3 linked regions of the Homo sapiens genome follow. The protein of the gene in region 1 purifies or fractionates together with the protein of each later gene. This does not show direct contact. Each region holds a gene or a part of one and is shown on either strand. Other genes may lie near its edges.

Region 1 (8,419 bases):
GGAAAGGCCAGGCATAAAAGGATTTCAGAATTTCCGTCCATAAGGAAGTGGCTTTGCGCACTGTCTGTTACTGCGTGCAAGGTGAAATTTGAAGAATGAAAACGTGCAGTAACAAGGGCTCCTTTGTCCAACTCACCTCTCCAGATACCAAGTTTCAGACATGTTGCATTTTAATTGAAAGGTTGATATAATTTTTTTTAAAGAACACTTGCGGTGTTTGAAGTGACAAAGGCTGCTGTGACCAAAAAGCAGGGAAAGGGAATTTTTTTTTAAAAAAGCAAACAACAACAACAAAAACCCCACAGAAAAGCAAACAACAAACAAACAAAAAACAGAGGAAGAAGTCAAACACCCTGGGCTGTGACTACTTCCAGGAAGGGGCTACAAGAGGCAGTTGGAAATTCTATTTGCTTTGCAACTGTGGGTTTTCTGGCCTGCTTCCTTTCTAAAGTATATTACTCTGCTTTTGGTTCATGAAGTTATCCATTTCTGTTTTCTGGAACAGCTATGTATTTTCTTTATCTATCATCTATCTATCTGTTTACCATCTATCTTTTCTGCCTTTCGCTATCAAGAGCTTGGGTCAAGCAGGATAGAATTCCAGTGTATGTTCACTCTACCATTTAAAACAAGAGCTCTTGTAGGCATTCTCCATCACATCATAAACCTGAGCTTTCTAAAACAGAGTGTGGCAAACTACCATGCATGGACCATGTCTGACACAGTCTGCGTTTGTAAGTAAAGTTGTAATGGGACACAGCCAATACATGTGTTACATAATGTCTCTGGCTACTTTCATGGTATAATGGAAGAGCTGAGTCATTGAGAGAGAGACCATATGGCTTGGAAAACTTGAAATATTTAACATTTAGCCCCTTGCAGAAAATATTTGCTGACTCTTGTTTTAAAAGATCTCTGTTTAGAATGCTACCTATTGCCTTCTGGATAGAATCACAACTCTTTACCACAATCGACACAGCTTCAGCCCTGCTTCTATATCCAGCCTCATCTATTTCTGCTCCTCCTCCTTATTTTCCTTCTGGACATGCTGATGGATTGTCAGCTTCCCAGATGTGCGAGAATCTCTCCTCCCTTCCCAACATTCTCACAATCTCCCTCTGCCTCTCAAGAACTTCCTGTCCCATCTCTCATGACAAATCCTTTCTTCATTCTTTAAGATGCAGCCCCTTGGCTCTTTCCTTAAGGATGTCTGTCTGGCTCTATTTTGGGTGACGTGCTCCTTCTGCATCTCCCAGAGCCAGCCGGTGTGTGTCAGCTACAACATTTCTTTGCATCTCTGTGTCATATATCACCAAATCTGCCTAAGCTTGCATGAGTCACCGCATGACAACTTCAGACTCCACCAGCATTGTCCCCACTAACCACAAGGCTTAGACATTCGTCCAGTATGCTCGGGGTTGTGGGGTGGTAGCAGTAACCAGCTGGTGACCATCATTTCTTACATCAGAATCAAATCTGTAGATCTCTGCCATTCATAAGTATTTGGAGTTTAAAATTAGCATAAAGATTTTCCTTAAAATAAGAACAAATGGCTTGAGTAGGCTTTTGGAACGTAGGATGTTTCCACTGGTTCATGTCTGTGTTCAGTATTCCCACATGAATCTAAACACGACTCTGCTCTTAGTAGCTGTGTGACCCTGGGACAGTCACTCAGTCTCCCTCAGCTAAATTTTGTTGTGTGAGTAATGAGGAGAGAGTTGTGATTTGTATTTAGTGAATAATAACAAACAAAAGGCATTTAGCTTTCTGGAACCTGGTATGTAGTAGAACCTCATGAAAATACTAGCTCTGTTGATAAAACTAGACTGAAAAAAGCTTTCAAAGTCAACAACAGTATGAGGCAGTGAAGGACGTAGAGGAGAAGCTGCTGCTGCAGCCTGTAGCTCCTGCAAGCCCGTTTTGTCCATGATTTAGCAGGAACGCATTACCTTTCCATGAGGACACTGCCCACAGAAACCAAGGCCATTCTTTGAAGACAAACATGTCTTAATAGCCTTTACATTATGTAATAGTGTAATACAAATAATAATTTATTATTAGTAATAATGTGAAATTATTTACAGTACCATAACCCTAACCATAACCCCTAATCCTAACCCTAACCCTAACCCTAACCCCTAACCCCTAACCCTAACCAACCCCTAACCCCAACCCCTAACCCTAAACCCTAACCCTAAACCCTAACCCTAACCCCTGACCTTGACCCTAACCCTAACCCCTAACCATGACTCTGACCCTGACCCTAACCCTGACCCTACCCTAACCCTAACCCCTAACCCTCACCCCCCACCCTCACCATCACCCTAACCCAACCCTAACCCAACGACTGTAAGCCGTTTACAGGAAACTCAAGCCAAAACACTACTTGTTTCCAACGTTTTGTTTGCAGAGGATTTACAAATTACACTCCAAAACAAGATAGCCACAGAGCATACTACTTCTCCTCTGAAGTCGCTCTGAGGGCCTCCGCATCAGTCCTAGAATTGGAAGATTGGTGGACAAGAACTGGGATGTTGATGGGGCACTGAATATTTGCTGGACACCAACCTCCTGTTACCTAACCTTACAGAGGGCCCAGATCTCACCTGCCCAAATCAGACATTTTAACACACACACCTCTCAACAGCAGGACTTACAGACACAAAACTCTGAGGTAAAGGATTGTCTCAACTCCCTGGTGTCTCAACGAACTAAAACACTGCCTAGCGCAGGTGCACCATCAACCTTATTCACTAAATACACCTCTGTATATATTCTTCATCTTTGATTGTGGAAATGATATAATCAACATAAAAATGTTTTATAGATTGGACTAAAGACCTTTGAGGTCTCTTCACAGGATCCTATCTGGCGGACCCCCAAATCTGCCAACACAGAGGTCATCCGTAAACACGTGCAGGACAGAGGCCAGACAAAACCATCTCTCTCAGCCTCAAAGTGGCCTGGCAGTCACATGTGGGGTCTGGCCTGTATGAGGAAGTCAGGCTTTCGGCTCCAGGCACCCTACTGCACCGCAAAACCAAGTTCTGCCTAAGAAACAAAAAACAGCCTGCTCACTCTCCCTAATATCCCAGGTGGTAACCTAAGAGCATTATCTGCTAGACACCCCTCCTCCTCCACCCTCCATGTCCAAGCTATCACCAAGGTCCTAGCAATCTTACCTCCTAAATGTCTCCCAAATCCACTTCTCTCCCTTCACTGTCCAGGCCACCAGCATGACTTCTGCATGTGTGTAGCAGCCTCCGCGCAGGACGTAAAGATGCAAATCTAGTCGTAGGCTCTCTGAAAGGAAAATTTTGGGGACCCAAAATTACTAAGCTAAAGGAAAAGTCAAGCTGGGAACTGCTCAGGGCAAACCTGCCTCCCTTTCTATTCCAAGTCACCTATCTCCTCACTAAGATAGGTGCATATCTGATTCCCTGCTTTGGAGAGGCTAATCAGAAACTCAAAACAATGCAACCTTTGTCTCTCACCTACCTGTGACCTTGGAAGCCCCCTCCCTGCTTCCAGTTGTCCCCAGCTTTCTGGATGGAAGCAACGTACTTCTTACATATATTGATTGATGTCTCATGTCTCCCTAAAACCAAGCTGTGCCCTGACCACCTTGGGCACATGTCGTCAAGACCTCCTGAGGCTGTGTCACGGGTGCACCTCTTTCTAAATTACCTGAAACCATCTCAGATAGGGTTCACACATCCCTTTCCCAAACCCTCCCAGGAGCCCCTCGTGGGCGCCCAGGTCCTGCGTGCTGTTGTGGCCCAGGCTCACCTGGAGCAACTCGACTCTTCGTTACAGCCTCGTGAACCTTTCAGTTCCTAAAGCTGTCTAGCCTGTGAAAGGAAAATGAATCTGGGGGCCCCAAAATCACTAAGCTAAAGGGAAAAAAGCTGGGAACTGCTTAGGGCAAACCTGCCTCCCCATCTATTCAAAGTCACCCCTCTGCTCACTGAGATAGGTTAATATGTGATAGCCTCCTTTGCGGAGGCTATTCAGAAACCCGAAAGAATACAACAGTTTGTCTCTCACCTACCTGTGACCTGGAAGCCCCCTCCCTGCTTCGAGTTGTCCCGCCTTTCCCGAGGGAACCAACGTTCATCTTACATATATTGATGTCTCCTGTCTCCCTAACATGTATAAAAGCAAGCTGTGTCCCGGCCACCTTTGGCACATGTCAAGACCTCCTGAGGCTGTGTCACGGGCGTGCGTCCTCAACCTTGGCAAAATAAACTTTCTAAATTGACTGAGACCGTCTCACATATTCGAGGTTCACAAGCCCATGCATGGGGACGTCCCCTGGGGTAGCGCCCCTCCTCCACTGAGCTCACTCGCTTCCCCCTTGTGTGTTTTCTTCAGAAGAAATTTCGCAGCTACTTGGTCCACACCTGTCTGCCCCACAGGAACCTCTCTTCTCCACAGGCACATGGGCGGCGTACCTGCTGGGCTGTGTGGAGAGGACCGGGTTCCTCTCCTGATTCCTGCTCAGTTAATAACGAATGTCGACAAGTCGAGAAAATTGCTCAAATTTACCCCATCAAAGAATTAAAAACTGGTGAAAGCTTGACCTGCGCCCCCCACCCCTGACGTGCTCACCGCTCCACTCCCTCTAGGCGGGCGGCACCCGCTGAAGCCTCGGTACCACACCCACAGCCAGGAGCCCCAGTCCCGCACTCGGCCGCATGCGCACTCCCTGCGGCCCTCCCGCCAGGCGCCGCGCTGGGCAGCCAGCGCCCCGGCGGGGTCCTTCAGGCCTTCGGCCGGGCAGCCTCCCTCGGGGTCCTTGTGCGGTTGCGTAGCAGCTGCGAGGACGCGGGCCGAGCCGGAAGTGGAGTGCGCTGCGGCGCGAGCTGGGCCGGCGGGCGTGGTTCGAGAGCGCGCAGAGTCCAGACTGGCGGCAGGGCCCGAGGGGCCGACCCGCAGCGTCCCTGGTCTCTCCAGCCCTCACTCGGAACCGCACGTGAGGGCAAATCCGCCCCGGTGGCTGGCTTAGCACGCGGGGACAGCCCCTCCGAGGCCTCCCTAGCGGTGTGGGCGAGAGGGCGTCCGGGTCGGGGGAAGCACGGAAAGGTGGCTTCGCGAGGCTGTTGTGGGGGGCGGGACGGGCAGCCTGGCGATGCCTGGACATGGTTGGTGGCCAAAAACATTTATCGAAAGATAGCTTACCCACTTAGATGGCAAGGACACGGACAAGCAAGTCTTCGCCCGTAAGCGGTGGCTCACGCCTATAGTCCAGGGATGCCGAGGAGGGAGGATCGCTTGAGTCCAGGAGTTGGAGGCTGCAGTGAGCCGTGATCGCGCCACCGCACTCCAGCCTGGGCGACAGAGTGAGACCCTATCTCTAAACAAAAGAAAGAACGTCTTCAAGCATGGAGCCATGAAGCTGGATTTGGCTTTCTGTCGCTCTCTCTACAGGGTACAGGTGAAAGGGGGCAGACCCCTCATCATGCTTTCCAGGCATCTGCCACTTCCCAGGAATTGTCTCCCTGGATAAACAAGGCGAAGTCCCTGGCTGTGCAGAAGCAGTAGCTGTGTGGTGGCACAGTCAGGAAAACTCGGGGGCCCTGTTGGTATTTTCTACCCCTGACCCGTGTGCATACTTCTGTCGTAGCTCTCACCACAGTAGACTCTGCTATCATTGTGTCTTCCATCCTCTGAACCCTGTGCAAGGTCTGCTCATGGTGAATGCCCAGTAAGGCTCACCTATTGCTGCTGTCTCATCATCATATCATTTCTATGTGCCCCCCTAGCTAAGAGTCTGGACTGTGGTTACATTCTCAGGAATGTTTGCAAAGTCATATTTAGGTGTGAGGAGAGTAAAACAGAGCTAGACATAATGTTGCACACAGCCTTTGGCACTGGATGCCTGGTGAATGTCTTGTGCAAATGGGTAACGTGAGGAGCAGCATTTGGGGTGCGCAGGACTTAACTATTTGTGTATAACATATTATTGATGCCTGTGTGTCATACTCTGCTACTCCAAGTCTAGTAGTCAATTGCATACCATATCTCAGTCTGGCACTGAGGGAAGCAGTCTGGAGGGAGGTACAGCTGGAGATTTGGTTGAGGGGACTTATCTCTGACAACAGCCTCTTGTTGATCTTCCCAGACAGTGACAATACCCTCCCCTCCCTTGGGCTGGACCCCTCTCTACAGCTAGGAGCCAATGGCAGAAGACAAAACCAAACCGAGTGAGTTGGACCAAGGGAAGTATGATGCTGATGACAACGTGAAGATCATCTGCCTGGGAGACAGCGCAGTGGGCAAATCCAAGTATGTTGGGAGATTAGGGAATAAATACCAGCCCCAGAGAGGGTCCAGGTCATTTAAAAAGTCCTCCAGAGGCAGAGGAGCATGGCTTCTTGGGGCTGGTGAAGGAGCAGTCTTGGCTGGAGCCCAGATGTTCATGGGGGAACGAGGGGAATCACGTGAGCCGTTGTGTGTGTCAGGTGGAGGGGGCAGGTCATAAGGACTGAGGAATTTGAATGTTTCCTCTGAGCCCTGAGAGAACGTGTGGAGCAACTGAGGACATTGTATGTGGTTTGTGGGCTGAGGGATGGCAAGGGCGGGGAGTGGGAATGGAAAGACAAAAGTGACTATGCCACCGTGACAGATTGGGTAAAGGTGGTAAAGATGCTTTCTTGGAGGGACTCTCTGAAATAGAGAAAACTGGGTAGAACTGACGATTGACTATAATCATTGTGAAGACTGGCTTCTTCTTGTAATGAATTTCGGTGCCTACGTGCCACCCGGAGAGGTGAAGGGAGGCTCTGCCGTGCTGCCAGCTTGTCTCCATGAGACGTCCTAGTTCTCACGCCTAGGACTGCTGAGGGCACATGTCCATTTCTGCCTTCATAGCATGACGGTACACTTGCCCCTGCCCAGAGAAGTGGTCACGTTTATCTCCCAAGTACTCCAGGCCCACCTTGGTTTCTACCTTCATTTTTATAATCAAGTCCTTTGACTCAGGTAGCTGTGAATAATTCTCTGGGGGCTTTGCTGGTTTTTAGGCCATCTCCATGAATTTGAATTCTCTGTCTCTCTCTCTCTCTCTCTCTCTTCCCCACCACACAATCACATACTGCAGCTCTGGTTTAGTTTTTTTTTTTTTTTTTTTGAGACGGAGTCTCGCTCTGTCCCCCAGGCTGGAGTGCAGTGACGTGATCTCGGCTCACTGCAAGCTCCGCCTCCCGGGTTCACGCCATTCTCCTGCCACAGCCTTGCGAGTAGCTAGGACTACAGGCGCCTGCCACCACACCCAGCTAATTTTATTTTTGTATTTTTAGTAGAGACGGGGCTTCACCTTATTAGCCAGGATGGTCTTGATCTCCGGACCTTGTGATCCGCCCACCTCAGCCTCCGAAAGTGCTGGGATTATAGGCATGAGCCACCGCGCCCGGCCTCTGGTTTAGTATTTTATAGTTACTTTGACCATCCTCAACAGCACGCCTGTACAGTAAAAGTGAGGGTAGGTGTTGTAGTTTGGGAAGGTTACCCAATAAATAACACCCCCTTTATCCCCACTCAAGTTTAAAAACAACAAAGAATAGAAATGGCAGGCAGGTGTAAAGCAAATTGCCACTTTAATAACAAACAGAACTTTCGGAGAATGTATCTTGGTATACCCAGCTCCCAAGTTCAATGCTAGTCTCTTTATATGCCTCATTTCAAACAGTAACAAAAAATAAGAATCCAAGTAGTTAACTTGACGTCAAAGATTACCATAACATTGGCCTCCACAGACACAACAATTAGAAAACAAGGCAGTCTTCATCCACTAGCAGTATCTCAGGCAAAAGGTTGTCCCAGATACAAAGACCATGGTGGAAACAGTGCATCTGAGGGAAGGTGAGTGCATGAGAACACTGTGGTTCAGTTTTGACTGGACTCAAGAATTACTGCCAATTTTCAGTGTCTCTAACCTATGAATCTAAACTCAGTTGGGCTAAAACACCCATTAAGAGGTTAACACATCCAGGCTGTGGTGAGCTATGATTGCGCCACTGCACTCTAGCCTAGTGACAGAGCAAGACCCTGTCTCAAAAAAAAAAAAAAAAAAAAAAGTTAACACTTGTGTTCATCATATCTGAAGGGCGTCAGTTGTACACGGCCTCATTTCTAGAGAGCAATGTTGTGGCAGTGCGGCCTTCTTGCAGAGTTCAGAAATTTACAACAGTAGCAGCCCCAGTCACCAGGCTTTCTTTAAGGTGCCTTTTTTTTTTTTTCTCATGCAGCATGTTCATGCTTCTTGATTCCACTCAGGGCTCTGTTGGAGGGCTCTGATGACAGCTCCCCTACCCCCTGTGAACAGGTGACCTCAGACCTGGGCACTGCCTCCTGTGGAAGGCTTTTCCTTTGCTCCTGCACATGCCACCTTCCTGAGCTGCCATTACAGGCATGAGCC
Region 2 (7,664 bases), on another chromosome or scaffold:
CACCTCCTGATGTGAGATTAACAAGTACAATATTTGTCTTCCTCTCATGTTCAAGTGGAAGAGATCTAAACTGAGTTGCTGCATCAGATTGTTACCATGGCAGCCATCCGCTGTTTTGGTAAATTGGATTAATTCTACTTCACTTCCTCATACAGCTGTTGACCTTTTCTTCCTTCCATCCAAATGTGATTTAAACACTTTTTTGTTATTGATAATGCTGTCGGCATTATTTCAGCCAAATGTATTCCATAAGCATTACCAATTGCCTGCCATATGCCAAATACTGGCTTAGGTACTGTCCTAGGTTGCTGGGGACAAAGAGAAGGATAGTATGTAGTTCATGCCCTCAAGATGCTCATGGTGTGGATGAAACATTTTTCCAGCAACTTCATCGAAGAACATTTAAAGGCAAAGAACATTTGTAGGAAACTCCCTGTATTGTGGACATAGCCCAACAGACGGCTGCAAGCAAGAATTTTCTTTGAAGTCTTGAGCTTTTCTTTAAAAAGTGATTAAGTTGTTCATCTTTGTACACAATATTTTGGGACTTGTTTTCATATAAAATAGAGTTTCTTCTGAAGGGAGAATTGTCTTTCTAGGAAGGTGTGCCATTCCAACTTGTGGCTTTGTTTCCCACCTGGCACTCAATCTTATCCCTGGGGACAGTCTGCCCCAGGGCTATCCTGGGGAGTGTTCACATCCAGTTTGAGAGGAACGGATATTAAATAGGAAAATGTTTGGTTCCTATAAAGGCAAAGCATGACACTGTTGATTTTCATTTAAAGAATCTTTCAAGCAAAATATTAAGCAATTTTGGGTTAAACTCGCCAGTCATCAGTAATCGTGATGTTAGAGGGAAGATAATATTGCATCATGAAGGGATGAAAGTAGCTTTTGGGATATGTGTCATTGTTGAGTTCATTTTCTCTTAGAAAATTGAGGGACTTTTTGTTTTGAAGGCTGAGGAAGGAGTGTCCAAGGAGTTGTGTGACCGGGTAAGCTGAGCCTGGCAGATATGAAGGGTCTGCAAGGTCAGGATGGGCCTTGACCACTTCCTGGTCAGTTTGATAAGGTCAGCCAACAGGTGAAGGCAGCAGGACAGTGTGATTTAGTTACATAAGAGAATTTGGGAGGACAGGTGCTACCAGGCCAAGAAAAGTCCTGGAAGTAGGAAGAAAATGTGTGGGTGTTGAGGGTGGAGGGGCAGGGCAGAGAGCCAACTTATAATGTAGCCTTGCCAGTTTCTGATGCCTGGGTCATTGTCTTGGTGAAAGGGAGTTTCATACTCAGGAGATACTCAGTAAATGTTTGCCAAATGAATAGAATAAATCAGTATTCTTTGATTCTTGTTTCATATATCTGCATTTTGAGAGAGAGTGTAGTTCATGCTGTGAGCATTTTCTCCACTTCTTTTGCAGGTTCTCTCACTTTTTTTTTTTTTTTTCAGTTACTGTTGTGAGCCAGTCTTGGTGTTCAAAGATTGCCAAGAGAAGGAAATAGGCTGTGTGTGTGTGTGTGTGTGTGTGTGTGTGTGTGTATTGAGCATTTGATGGATGGCTGAGAGCAGGGATGAAGGCCTCTTCTCTGACCTCTAGTCAGAGCTGAAACTTTTCAGTTTTTTCTCAACTCCCATTTGCAGCAATTTTGAGTGTTATCTGTGAATTGATTCATGCTGATAAATTAACTTAGAAAACCCCACATTCTCACAAACAGGAATGTGAGGGTGCAGCTGGCACTGGAACCACTGAGGGTCTGTGAGTGGGCACAGGTATCCCAAAAGTATCCAAAGGAGGGACAGCCTCAGGTCAGGTACCTGAGGGTGTGGCAGGTATAGTGATGGGTGACCTGCCAGGCAGTGCTAGGCTAGGATTTGTTGAGACGTCAAAATCAGCACCGTTAGCTGTTTCACATGGTTTGCGATGTTTCTACATGCACGATGTCGAAGGGGATTCTTTTATTTGGTAATTTAAAAACAAATTTAATTGAGAGGAACCAAAACTTTCCATATGTGAATTGTATAGAGATTGGCAAAACGGCTTACCTTATTAAACTCAAGAGGAAAGGCTCACCCATTGGACAGCAATCCCATTTAATTGGGAAATTTTTAAAAACAAGTAGCTGCCAGTAGGCAGAGGCGAAGTTTCAGTATTGGTGAGGGTTGCTTCTCCATTTCCCTTTCTTGGGTTCTAGTTTAGCCCTTTTCAGAATGATTGCCTTGTTTTGTAATAGTGTAGTTGCTTCACAGCTCCCTTAATTTACATGAAACGGTGCTTGACAAGATAGAAAAGGGAGAGGAGAGACAGAGGCAAAGAAAGACATAAATACGGCCGGGCGCGGTGGCTCACGCCTGTAATCCCAGCACTTTGGGAGGCCGAGGCGGGCGGATCACGAGGTCAGGAGATGGAGACCATCCTGGCTAACACGGTGAAACCCCGTCTCTACTAAAAATACAAAAAATTAGCCGGGCGTGGTAGCGGGCACCTGTAGTCCCAGCTACTCGGGAGGCTGAGGCAGGAGAATGGTGTGAACCCGGGAGGCGGAGCTTGCAGTGAGCCGAGATCGCGCCACTGCACTCCAGCCTGGGCGACAGAGCGAGACTCCTTCTCAAAAAAAAAAAAAAAAAAAAAAAAAAAAGACATAAATACATCAGGAGTGAGCCGGAGAGCAAGAGAGAAGGCCAGAGATAGAGTGGCAGAGGGGGACATGTTGAGAGGGAGTGAAACACAGAGCTCAGATGGAGGGGAAAGGAAGAGAGACTGATGGATTCCATCTTGCCTCAGTTTCTCCTCTTTCCACTTAGTAGAAAGGTGGCCCTGAGTCACCTTGAGATGAGAGAGGTAAATCAGCTCTTTTCTCTTTGATCTCAGCTCTTGAGTATCTTCCACATGTGAGCATCTTGGTGCTTTGGGATGTGTTTGTGGTATTTAAAGACGAATATATATATATATATATATATATATGTATATATGAATATATGTATATATGAATATGTATATATGGATATATATATGTATGTATTTTTTCATGCTCATGGCCAGTAATGTCTGGTTCTCATCCAAGAAGAGAAGATGTGTTCTAGCTTTGCAACATGGTGGTGGGCTACACCCAAGTCCTAGATGAGGTTCAAGGGTGCTTTTGACTGTATTGGGTATTTACCTTGAGTACCAGATTTGGGATCTATCATTGTGCTTGGCATAGGTTTTATGGAAGTTTCTTTACCTTTTCTGGATTCTGAACCGGGATCCTAACATCTGTGTCTCTGTTTATGTCTGTATCTGTATCTCCTTGTTTTCTAACTGTTGCTATTCTGTAGCTTTTTGCTTTTTCTCTTTAATGTGTCCTCTGTCACAATTATGTGTATCATTACTCTGCTGAGTGGGAGAAACCTGTCTCTTGATAACTACAGCTCATTATTGGTGTATACAAATGCTACTGATTTTTCTACATTGATTTTTGTATCCTGAGAATTAACTGAATTCGTTTATCAAAGCTTAGGAGTCTTTTATAGGAGTCTTTAGGGTTTTCTAGATATAAGATTATATTGTCAGCCAACAGAGATAATTTGACTTCCTGTTTTCCAATTTGGATGGGTTTATTTCTTTCTCTTGCCTGATTGCTCTGGCTAGGACTTCCAGTACTATATTGAGAAGGAGTGGTGAGAGCGGGCATCCTTGCCTTGCTCCAGATTGTAGGGGGAATGAACCTTTGATCCTTCCTCCTGGGCCTTTTGTGAATCTGTGCATGCCTTAGGTTTTATGAGCTCTACTTGCTGGGTGGTGGCCACTTCTGGTTCTGATATTTGAATTTAATCTCAAGGTAGTAATTTCTTTTTGGCTTTCAGATTTTGGAAAGGTATTTTGGACTTCTAGTCCTTAGAAGGCTCTCAGTGTTAGCCATCTGAGCAGTGGCCTGCTGTGACCCTCAGAATTCACTGATTGCTCAGAGCTTTGCTCTCAGAATTTGAAGAAAGATGATTTATTCTGTCCTTCTGGTTTGTGCAAAAAGAAAAAGGCTTAAAAAGAAAAAGTCTTAAAACTTAGTGTTACCAGGGAGACTGTACTCCCAGAACTACAGACTCTTCTCTAGCTTTTCCTCAAACCTGAACTTGTGATTTATTCTTCTCCAAAACTACTGTTAAATTCAGTTACACTACCCCTATCTCTTTAAGCGTGTACAAATCTTCATCTGTTTCTTATTTTCTGCCCAGGTTATCCAATCTTTTTTCATTTGTACAATGAAAGTAGCCGTATCATATGGGGAAAGGTTAGTGTGCCATGGTGATTCCAAGTGTGTTTTGAATCCTTTTTCTCTCCTAAGAGGGTATACACAGTATGCCTTCTTGCTTCATGTATCACTTATTACAATTTAGGTAGCACTTGAGTGCAGTATGTAGTCAGAAGAGGGAAATGGGAAGAGAATATTTATTCTGAGTGTTCAGGGCTGCCTCACCTGACTGTATTAGTCTCATATGAGGTTGTAAAATGGAAAGTAAACACTTGTCTGTCTCCCAGAGGGAAGTTCTAATGGTGGAATTTATCTATGACACATAGGATTTCTTTAGAATTATTTTGTCAAACAAACAAGTTCATTGCTTCAACTTGTAAATATTCAGGGTCTTCCAAACGATAACTGCTTTTGTCAGAGTAATTATAAGAAGAGTGAATTTTAACCCTTAAGGCCTTAGTCTATATGTCTTATAAAAACAGGATATACAGCTCCAGTAGTGCAAATGTTTCTTTGATTCTTTCTCTAGTTCACCCAATATTGACATTGCCCTTGACATCTCACTAGGCACTATATATATACACCTGACCCTGACCTTGTTTCTCACCTTCTTAAATACTCAGGAGTTTCTAACACCTGAAGGACCTGGGATGTGGAATAATGAATGGGAAAATTCCTCCTGGCTCACCAAAACACCACTCATTCTGGACTATGGATGTTTCACATCGAATGTTTCTCAAATTGGGAGCCATAGACCCTTCGGGGTCCTTACATATATCTTTGGGAGTTTTAGGAGACCAAATATTCTTATTTTCATTTTGGCAATAATGTAAAATAAATTGATGTGAGCTCATTCCAAATCACCTGCATTACAGATTTGGATGACTTTTGTATTACAGATTTGGCTACACAATTTCAAAACCTGCATTTGTGTTCGTGAGGCATCTCATAACACTGTGTGCATTGTCATGGGCTAAAAAGGAAGGCAGAGAAACACTTTGGACAATCGAGGAGGGAGGAGCCAAGATGGCCGAATAGGAACAGCTCCGGTCTACAGCTCCCAGCGTGAGCGACGCAGAAGACGGGTGATTTCTGCATTTCCATCTGAGGTACCGGGTTCATCTCACTACGGAGTGCGAGACAGTGGGCGCAGGCCAGTGTGTGCGCGCACCGTGCGCGAGCCGAAGCAGGGCGAGGCATTGCCTCACCTGGGAAGCGCAAGGGGTCAGGGAGTTCCCTTTCCGAGTCAAAGAAAGGGGTGACGGACGCACCTGGAAAATCGGGTCACTCCCACCCGAATATTGCGCTTTTCAGACCGGCTTAAGAAACGGCGCACCACAAGACTATATCCCACACCTGGCTCAGAGGGTCCTACGCCCACGGAATCTCGCTGATTGCTAGCACAGCAGTCTGAGATCAAACTGCAAGGCGGCAACGAGGCTGGGGGAGGGGCGCCCGCCATTGCCCAGGCTTGCTTAGGTAAACAAAGCAGCCTGGAAGCTCGAACTGGGTGGAGCCCACCACAGCTCAAGGAGGCCTGCCTGCCTCTGTAGGCTCCACCTCTGGGGGCAGGGCACAGACAAACAAAAAGACAGCAGTAACCTCTGCAGACTTAAGTGTCCCTGTCTGACAGCTTTGAAGAGAGCAGTGGTTCTCCCAGCACGCAGATGGAGATCTGAGAACGGGCAGACTGCCTCCTCAAGTGGGTCCCTGACCCCTGACCCCCAAGCAGCCTAACTGGGAGGCACCCCCCAACAGGGGCACACTGACACCTCACACGGCAGGGTATTCCAACAGACCTGCAGCTGAGGGTCCTGTCTGTTAGAAGGAAAACTAACAACCAGAAAGGACATCTACACCGAAAACCCATCTGTACATCACCATCATCAAAGACCAAAAGTAGATAAAACCACAAAGATGGGGAAAAAACAGAACAGAAAAACTGGAAACTCTAAAAAGCAGAGCACCTCTCCTCCTCCAAAGGAACGCAGTTCCTCACCAGCAACAGAACAAAGCTGGATGGAAAATGATTTTGACGAGCTGAGAGAAGAAGGCTTCAGACGATCAAATTACTCTGAGCTACGGGAGGACATTCAAACCAAAGGCAAAGAAGTTGAAAACTTTGAAAAAAATTTAGAAGAATGTATAACTAGAATAACCAATACAGAGAAGTGCTTAAAGGAGCTGATGGAGCTGAAAACCAAGGCTCGAGAACTACGTGAAGAATGCAGAAGCCTCAGGAGCCGATGCGATCAACTGGAAGAAAGGGTATCAGCAATGGAAGATGAAATGAATGAAATGAAGCGAGAAGGGAAGTTTAGAGAAAAAAGAATAAAAAGAAATGAGCAAAGCCTCCAAGAAATATGGGACTATGTGAAAAGACCAAATCTACGTCTGATTGGTGTACCTGAAAGTGATGTGGAGAATGGAACCAAGTTGGAAAACACTCTGCAGGATATTATCCAGGAGAACTTCCCCAATCTAGCAAGGCAGGCCAACGTTCAGATTCAGGAAATACAGAGAACGCCACAAAGATACTCCTCGAGAAGAGCAACTCCAAGACACATAATTGTCAGATTCACCAAAGTTGAAATGAAGGAAAAAATGTTAAGGGCAGCCAGAGAGAAAGGTCGGGTTACCCTCAAAGGGAAGCCCATCAGACTAACAGCGGATCTCTCGGCAGAAACCCTACAAGCCAGAAGAGAGTGGGGGCCAATATTCAACATTCTTAAAGAAAAGAATTTTCAACCCAGAATTTCATATCCAGCCAAACTAAGCTTCATAAGTGAAGGAGAAATAAAATACTTTATAGACGAGCAAATGCTGAGAGATTTTGTCACCACCAGGCCTGCCCTAAAAGAGCTCCTGAAGGAAGTGCTAAACATGGAAAGGATCAACCGGTACCAGCCGCTGCAAAATCATGCCAAAATGTAAAGACCATCGAGACTAGGAAGAAACTGCATCAACTAATGAGCAAAATCACCAGCTAACATCATAATGACAGGATCAAATTCACACATAACAATATTAACTTTAAATATAAATGGACTAAATTCTGCAATTAAAAGACACAGACTGGCAAATTGGATAAAGAGTCAGGACCCATCAGTGTGCTGTATTCAGGAAACCCATCTCACGTGCAGAGACACACATAGGCTCAAAATAAAAGGATGGAGGAAGATCTACCAAGCAAATGGAAAACAAAAAAAGGCAGGGGTTGCAATCCTAGTCTCTGATAAAACAGACTTTAAACCAACAAAGATCAAAAGATACAAAGAAGGCCATTACATAATGGTAAAGGGATCAATTCAACAAGAGGAGCTAACTATCCTAAATATTTATGCACCCAATACAGGGGCACCCAGATTCATAAAGCAAGTCCTGAGTGACCTACAAAGAGACTTAGACTCCCACACATTAATAATGGGAGACTTTAACAC
Region 3 (7,588 bases), on another chromosome or scaffold:
ATTAGTTTGATCTTTTCAATTGAATGAGGCAGTAAGCCACTAGGTACAGTGATACTAGCTTTGGTAATGTGCAGCTGTAGAGGGTTTGTACAAGGTTATTAAATTACATTCAAAATTTTGGTCTAGAATATCTTTTAGTTTTGGTGACCTAGGTCCATTATGTGCCTTAGGAATATACAAATATATGTAATCCAGGCTGGAGTACAGTGGCTCAATCCCAGCTCACTGCAGCCTTGACCTCTGAGGCTCAGGCGATTCTCCCATCTCAGCCTCCAGAGTAGCTGGGACTACAGGTGCACACCACCATGCCTGGCTAAGTTTTTGTATTTTTTGTAGAGATGGCTCTTGCCATTGTTGTCCAGGCTGGATGCCTGGGCCCAAGTAATCCACCCGCCTCAGCCTCCCAAAGTGCTAGGATTACAGGCGTGAGCCGCTGCGCCGGACACTGCCTTAAGAGTATACGAATGTATTTTTGATGCAAATGGAACTTTTCATTCAGGTGTAAATAAACTTGAGCTAAGTAAATGGTTAATAATAGGAGTTGATTTACATGCTTGCATTTATCTATTTTTTTCATTTACATACAACTCCTTGTGGGAAAGTGCACTAAAGATGCTGAGTACAAAAACTTTGTATTTATTTGCAGGATATATCTGAATATTTTTAATTAATTAAATAACCGAAGTTCCAAATTATAAACCTACAATCATGGACAGACATGGGAGCTTAAAGATTGCGTGGCTTGGCCAAATATTGGAGGAGGTCCAGGCGCAGTGGCTCACGCCTGTAATCCTAACATTTTGGGAGGCCAAGGCAGGCGGATTGCCTGAGCTCAGGAGTTTGAGACCAGCCTGGGCAAAGTGGTGAAACCCCATCTCTACTAAAATACAAAAAAAAAATTAACCAGGGGTGGCAGCGTGCACCTGTAGTCCCAGCTACTCGAGAGGCTGAGGCAGGAGAATTGCTTGAACCCAGGAGGCGGATGTTGCAGTGAGCCGAGATCATGCCATTGCACTCCAGCCTGGAGACAGAGGGAGACTCCGTCTCAAAATACGTATATATTAGAGGAGGCGAATTGTATGGATTTAGTAGCAAACTGCAGATTCATTTAGGAGGGCTGCTGTCATCAGCCTTAAGACATCAATTACATATGTGTCATTTTACTTATTATTGAACACTTCTGAGTACTTGTTCTAGAAGCTCTCCCAAATTAATTATCTCTTCCAAATTTTCCCAGTAATACCAAGGGCCTCATCTTTTCTGATCATTGCTAAAGTGTTAATTCTTTCTTGATTTATATAGATAAAAATAACCCTATTATGGAAAGTTATTTTTATTTTCCTCACTGCCAAAATTTTATTCATCACCGTTTTCCAACATATGGATTTGAGTATAATCTCTTAAGATATTTACAGAAATTTTAACCTATGTTATCAAATATCAGGAAGTGCTTATCTTAGAAGCTTGTTCTTTGGAATTTTGTTGACAGGAGTTGAAAATTTGAACAGCTCAACAATTGTACTTAACAATTTAGGTTAAGTTACTTGATAGTTTTAAACGTGAGAAAAGGAACGAGAAATATTAGAGAAAGGAACTGGATATAGTGAGCATGAAGGAAGTTTTCTAAGAGTGTTCCTGCAAAGGAGTAGCTTGCTGGGCAAATGAGGTCTAAAAAACTAGCTGTTACTTAAATGAAATCATAGTCACATGCTTGCAGACTGATAGGAGAATTCCAACAGAGAGAGAGAAAACGTGATGATAGAGAAGAAAAAGGGAAAATTGCTGGACGATGTCTTTGAGTAGGTGACTGTGGGTGAATCTGCTGCAGAAGAAGTTATTTTTTGTTTTTTGTTTGTTTTTGAGACAGAGTCTCGCTCTGTTGCCCAGGCTGGAGTGCAATGGAGCGATCTCTGCTCACGGCAAGCTCGGCCTCCCGAGTTCACACCATTCTCCTGCTTCAGCCTCCTGAGTAGCTGGGACTACAGGCGCCCACCACCACACCCGGCTAATTTTTTTGTATTTTTAGTAGAGACGGGGTTTCACCGTGTTAGCCAGGATGGTCTCGATCTCCTCACCTCGTGATCCACCTGCCTTGGCCTCCCAAAGTGCTGGGACTACAGGCATAAGCCACCGCACCCGGCCCTTTTTTCTATTTTTAGTAAAGATGGGGTTTCACCATGTTGACCAGGCTCATCTCAAACTCCTGACCTCAGGTGATCCACCCGCCTCAGCCTCCCAAAGTGCTGGGATTACAGGCATGAGCCACCACACCTGACCCAAGAAGTGACTTTTGGTAAGTACATGGATCACCCATCATTCTAGGTGGAAAGCAGAGGATTAGGGTTGTACAATGCCTAGGAGATGGAGTGATGGTGTTGGGAGTGGCTGTTCTCTTCTGCATGCAGCAGTTTTCTCAGAGATCTGAGAAGTTTACCCCAGTGTCGACGATAATGTGTCAGTATTTCTGGAACATGGCAAGCCCTTTCCATCTGTGGGTTTAAGTCATCTTGTGTGTCTGGGATATTTTTCTTTATTATTATGGCTCTCTTGTTCAAGGATACCCCTTTTAGCACATGCTGTATTTGTTTTACCCTCTCTTTCATACCTACAATACTTGGCCTACTCCTTTTTAACTCTTTCCACTTCCATTTCTTTTTACCTGCTTTTCCCAGTCTTGGCCTCCATGTCCTTCTCTATATTTCACTGATATCTAGAGCCCTTTCTGTTGCTTCTAATTTGCCTTAATCAGATGTAATCATCTATTCCTAGAGTTTATTCTTAACCTCCTACCTGCAGCATTATAGGTCATCAACTGTCATTCTTAAAGTTGTCATAACCTCTCTTAAGAAAATTCTCCGCATATAGCCTAATCAAAATGTCTTCCTTCCTTTCCTTTATAATGTTTTTTGTGTGCTTTATGTGTCAGAACCTTGTACCCAGATCAACCTAGCAAAGGGTTTCCCTCCTTTTTTATCCCCTAGAACATTTTACAGAGAATGACAATTCCTTCCTTGAAATTTTGATAACATTTGCCTCTAAAGCTTTCAGTGCTTAGTTTGGTGGTGACGATCCCAACATGTTAAACTGCACAGATTCTGGGGGCTCAGCTGCATCTGCAGCCACATTGCCTTGGGCAGGTAATTTACCTCTCTGTGCTTCAGTTCCTTATCGATGCTGTGATAATAAAAAATAACGCTTATCTCAGAAAGCTGTCGTGAGGACCAAATGAATTAATATACATTAAACTCTTAAAATAGAAACTGGCACAAAGGAAGGACACAATGTGTGTCTGGCTGTCTTACTATTATTATTATTACTATTAGAGTTGTTGGATTATAATAGGTACGGTATTGTATATTAGTTTCTTCCTCAAAGCCTAATTCATAGACTTATTTATTATTTTTTAGATCTTTAAAAGAGTATCATTCTCCCATTCTTACTCTTCTGACTGCAAAAGAAACAAGTTTCAAACAGACCATTTATTCCTGAGTCTCAGAACTGATTTCCAGGGAAAACATTTCAGGCATAGCCTTTTGATTTTCTACGTAACTAAAAATTACATGCATAAAGGTGAACTTATGGAAAGACAAAAGAGCAAAACACATTAATCTTTTTATAGAATATTACCCATCACTGCTGCTGTGTTATTTTTGTTCTGTATTATCCGTGCCAAAGTCAGCGGAGTCATGCGTCCATCGTGCTTCTCTCCTCATATTCCCTGAGAGAACCGACAGATATGGCAAACATTTTTTTGATATTTTAAGAGACCCTACTTGCAAAACTATTTGGCCTAGAGCTTTAGTTGGTAGATGATATTTGGAATATGATAGGCAAGAAATTATACAGTTTTTTAGCTCTTCCAAACACATTGGTTTCCAAGGTCTTGCATTTATTTATCGATTTTCAGCTATCCTAAGAATTTATTCAGTAATTTTAGTCACAATGTTTATTATTTTTCTCTTCCATTTGCCACCTTTATTTTTTCTTTTTAAAATCTGGGATGATATATACAGCAAGTGAATTAAAAAGATGCCATCGAACGGCGCCGTGGCTCACACCTGTAATCCCAGCACTTTGGGAGGCCGAGGCGGGCGGATCACCTGAGGTCAGGAGATGGAGACCAGCCTGGCCAACATGGTGAAACCTCGTCTCTACTAAAAATACAAAAAAATTAGCTGGGCGTGATGGCGGGCGCCTGTAATCTCAGCTACTCGGGATGCTGAGGCAGGAGAATCGCCCGAACCCGGGAGGCAGAGGTTGCAGTCAGCCGAGATCACGCCACTGCACTCTGGCCTGGGCAACAGAGCTAGACATCACCTTAAAAAAAAAAAAAAAAAGAAAGCCATAGAGTAGAAAATAACTTACCCTAGGTTTAAAAACTAAAAGCATTTTTTAAAGTGAGATTGTGTCAAAACAATTTTCTATTATCCCTCAATTGAGAGGGAGAAAGATAGAGAGAAAGAGATGGAGAGATAGAGAGAGACCGGGGTGTGTTTTCTTGTTAAGAATACAAAAATATCAGATTGCCTTAGCTGATATCTTTCTACATCCCCAGGGTATAAAAGGGCCCTGGTTCAACTTGCACATTGAGTTCCACATCTGATACCCAGGAGTCTCCAGCTTCCAAGAGAGGTTAGTGCATATGTTTTACCTTGTGGGAATTCTTTCTTTTATGATCTAAATTTGTACATATTCAGTAATTGTTTTCTCTGCATTTCTATTGTATCTCATGTCCATGCATTAAGTCAAACAGCCTTTTGCAAAGAGGAGGAGCAGATTGCTGAAAATATTAACAGTAATGATAATGGACAGACGTGAATGCATTTTTTTAAAAAGTAGAAAAGGATGATGAGAAGGTTTTACATGAAGATAAATGACCCTGAAAACATTTTTTTTTTTTTTTTTTGAGACAGAGTCTCACTCTGTCTGCCCAGGCTGGAGAGCAATGGCACGATCTCGGCTCACTGCAACCTCTGCTTCCCAGGTTCAAGTGATTCTCCTGCCTCAGCCTCCTGAGTAGCTGGGAATACAGGCATGTGCCACCAGGCCTGGCTAATTTTTGTATTTTTTAGTAGAGAGAGGGTTCCACCATGTTGGCCAGGCTGGTCTCAAACTCTTGACCTCAAGTGATCCTCCCACCTCGGCCTCCCAAAGTACTGGGATTACAGACGTGAGCCACCGCTCCTGGCCCTGAAAACATTTTGTGAGAAGATCTTCACCTAAGAATCTGCTTGGCTCTGAAGAGGACCATAGCCCTTCTGTGGGTGACGTAGCTTTCCTACAAGGCTGTGTGTTTCTCCACGTCTGATCCAGGTCCAGTGGTTTTGCACAGGGCTGCACTTTTCCCCAAAAACTTGTACAAAGAGTGTTACCTACAGTTTACCTCGGTGTGTTTTGTGTGTGTGTGTGTGTGTGTGTGTGTGTGTGTGTGTGTGTGGTGGGGCGGGGATTCTTTAACTCGTCACTAAAGGAAACCTGGAAAACATGAGGAGTATGTATGTACCCAAGATTTCCCGTTCAGAGAGACACCACATTAGAAACAGATGATTCACCTTCCATATCTCAGAACTGTGCTGCTTCAACACAATTGCTGTCACTTGTAGAGAAGGTGTATGCTAAATCCTAATGTGGTTGGTAACACATAGCAAAAACGAGATGGCAATATCTTTCACATAAAGAGGCATTTGTGTGCATCTATTTCAGGTCGGGTCACAGCCAGCAGCTATGTCTGACATAAATCTTGACTGGGTTGACAGGCGTCAGTTGCAGCGCTTGGAGGAAATGCTGATTGTTGTGGATGAGAATGATAAGGTTATTGGTGCCGACACCAAGAGGAATTGCCATCTGAACGAAAACATTGAGAAAGGTAGCCCCCGCCCATTTTCTCTGTCCAGTTCCCAGGGTTTTCCCATTTTTCCCACCCGACGGCAACCTAAGAAGAGAGTCTAGGCCTTTCCGGCTAGGAGGCGACCACTGGGTCACCTGTGTGCTTGCTGTGCCGTCTTTAGAAGGCTCGGGGAGCAGCACCTGGATGACGTCTTTGCTTGGTCAAGCCCTTGTCAGGCTCCTGCACCTTCTCCTAGGCATCCGTGCTCTTCCTCGTAAGATCCTGTTTCAGCAAGAATTCTACCAGGTTGTTTTAGCGAGAACCCTGACCTTGGCATCTGATTAAATTCCTCAACCCCGTCCCTCCCAGGTGACGTCTGATCACGCAGGCCTGTCTTCAGCAGGTCTTGTTAGGTCGGTGTAGCCAGAACCCCCTTCCCACTGATGTTTTCTCTTAGTAACTTTTAATCCATAGGCCCCAGCCTGCTCCTTGGGTGTTGTGTGCAGTTAGGCTGGTTCTCCATGGAGGTCTCTTTCCCCTATTGAAATGGTTCTCAGTAAAGTCAGACTTTCCTGCTTTAACTCCTGTCCAGCTCTGGTTTTCTTTGACCATCTTAAGCCATTTTATTATTTTTTAATTTTCATTTTTGTGTCTTTTTTATAAACACATAATAATTATGCATATTAATGGGGTACATGTGATAGTTTGATACCACCATGTCATGCATAATGATCAAATAGGGCATTTTGGGATATCCATCACCTCAAACATTCATCATATCTTTGTGTTGGGAACATTCCAAATCCTCTGTTCTAGCCACATTGAAACATATAATACACTGTTGTTAACTACAGTCACCCTACTGTGCTATTGAACAGCTGATATTATTCCTTCTCTATCGCGGTATGTTTATACTTATTAACCACCCTCTCGTCATCCCTCCCCACTGCCCTTCGCAGCCTCTGGTGTCTAGCATTGTGTTTTCTGCCTCCATGAGATCAACTTCTTTAGAGCCCACATAGCAGTGAGAACATGTGATACTTGTTTTTCTGTGCCAGGTTTGTTCCACTTAACACAATGGCCTCCAGTTCCATCCATGTTGCTACAAATGACAGGATTTCATTCTTCTTTTTTTTTTTTTTTTTGAGACAGAGTCTTGCTCCATTGCCCAGGCTGGAGTGCAGTGGTGCAATCTCAGGTCACTGCCAGCTCTGCCTCCTGGGTTCATGCCATTCTCCTGCCTCAGCCTCCCGAGTAGCTTGGACTACAGGCACCTGCCACCACGCCCAGCTAATTTTTTTGTATTTTTAGTAGAGACGGGGTTTCACCATGTTAGCCAGGGTGGTCTCGATCTTCTGACCTCGTGATCCGCCCACTTCAGCCTCCCAAAGTGCTGAGATTACAGGCGTGAGCCACCGCACCCGGCCCGATTTCATTCTTCTTTTGTGGTGGAATGGTATGCCACTGTGTATCTAACCCTCATGTTTTCAACCCTTCAAACCTCCACGGACACAGGTTGATCTCATATCTTGGCTGTCGTAAATGGTGCTCAGCACCCAGGAATGCTGCGATATCTCTCTGATAGACTGATCTCTTTTATTTTGGATATTTGCCCTGGTAGTGGGATTTCTGGGTCATCTGGTAGATCTATTTTTAGTTTCCCGAGTGTTCTAATCCGCTGAGATTCTGAAACGTTGTGTTTGGGCATCCAGCAGTCCCCTTTGCCCTGCCCAGGTGCCACAATCACAGGCTTTTCTACGA

The links. The genes of interacting proteins can lie anywhere in the genome.
Region 2: the proteins of RABL2B (region 1) and RASEF purify together in Homo sapiens (affinity purification with mass spectrometry; 3 studies listed by BioGRID and IntAct, with this or other methods). This does not show direct contact.
Region 3: the proteins of RABL2B (region 1) and IDI2 purify together in Homo sapiens (affinity purification with mass spectrometry; 3 studies listed by BioGRID and IntAct, with this or other methods). This does not show direct contact.

Annotation. Positions count from the first base shown.
Region 1 is NC_000022.11:50,780,057-50,788,475, reverse strand, and holds the start of RABL2B (rab-like protein 2B), read left to right. Parts: upstream 1-4,839; 5' UTR 4,840-4,975; exon of another isoform or gene 4,976-5,085; intron 5,086-5,181; exon of another isoform or gene 5,182-6,128; 5' UTR 6,129-6,181; coding exon 6,182-6,288; intron 6,289-8,419. UniProt on the Homo sapiens protein: Small GTPase required for ciliation. Activated in a guanine nucleotide exchange factor (GEF)-independent manner via its intrinsic GDP for GTP nucleotide exchange ability.
Region 2 is NC_000009.12:83,053,143-83,060,806, reverse strand, and holds part of RASEF (ras and EF-hand domain-containing protein), read left to right. Parts: intron 1-7,664.
Region 3 is NC_000010.11:1,022,860-1,030,447, reverse strand, and holds the start of IDI2 (isopentenyl-diphosphate delta-isomerase 2), read left to right. Parts: upstream 1-4,588; 5' UTR 4,589-4,632; intron 4,633-5,703; 5' UTR 5,704-5,724; coding exon 5,725-5,866; intron 5,867-7,588. UniProt on the Homo sapiens protein: Catalyzes the 1,3-allylic rearrangement of the homoallylic substrate isopentenyl (IPP) to its highly electrophilic allylic isomer, dimethylallyl diphosphate (DMAPP).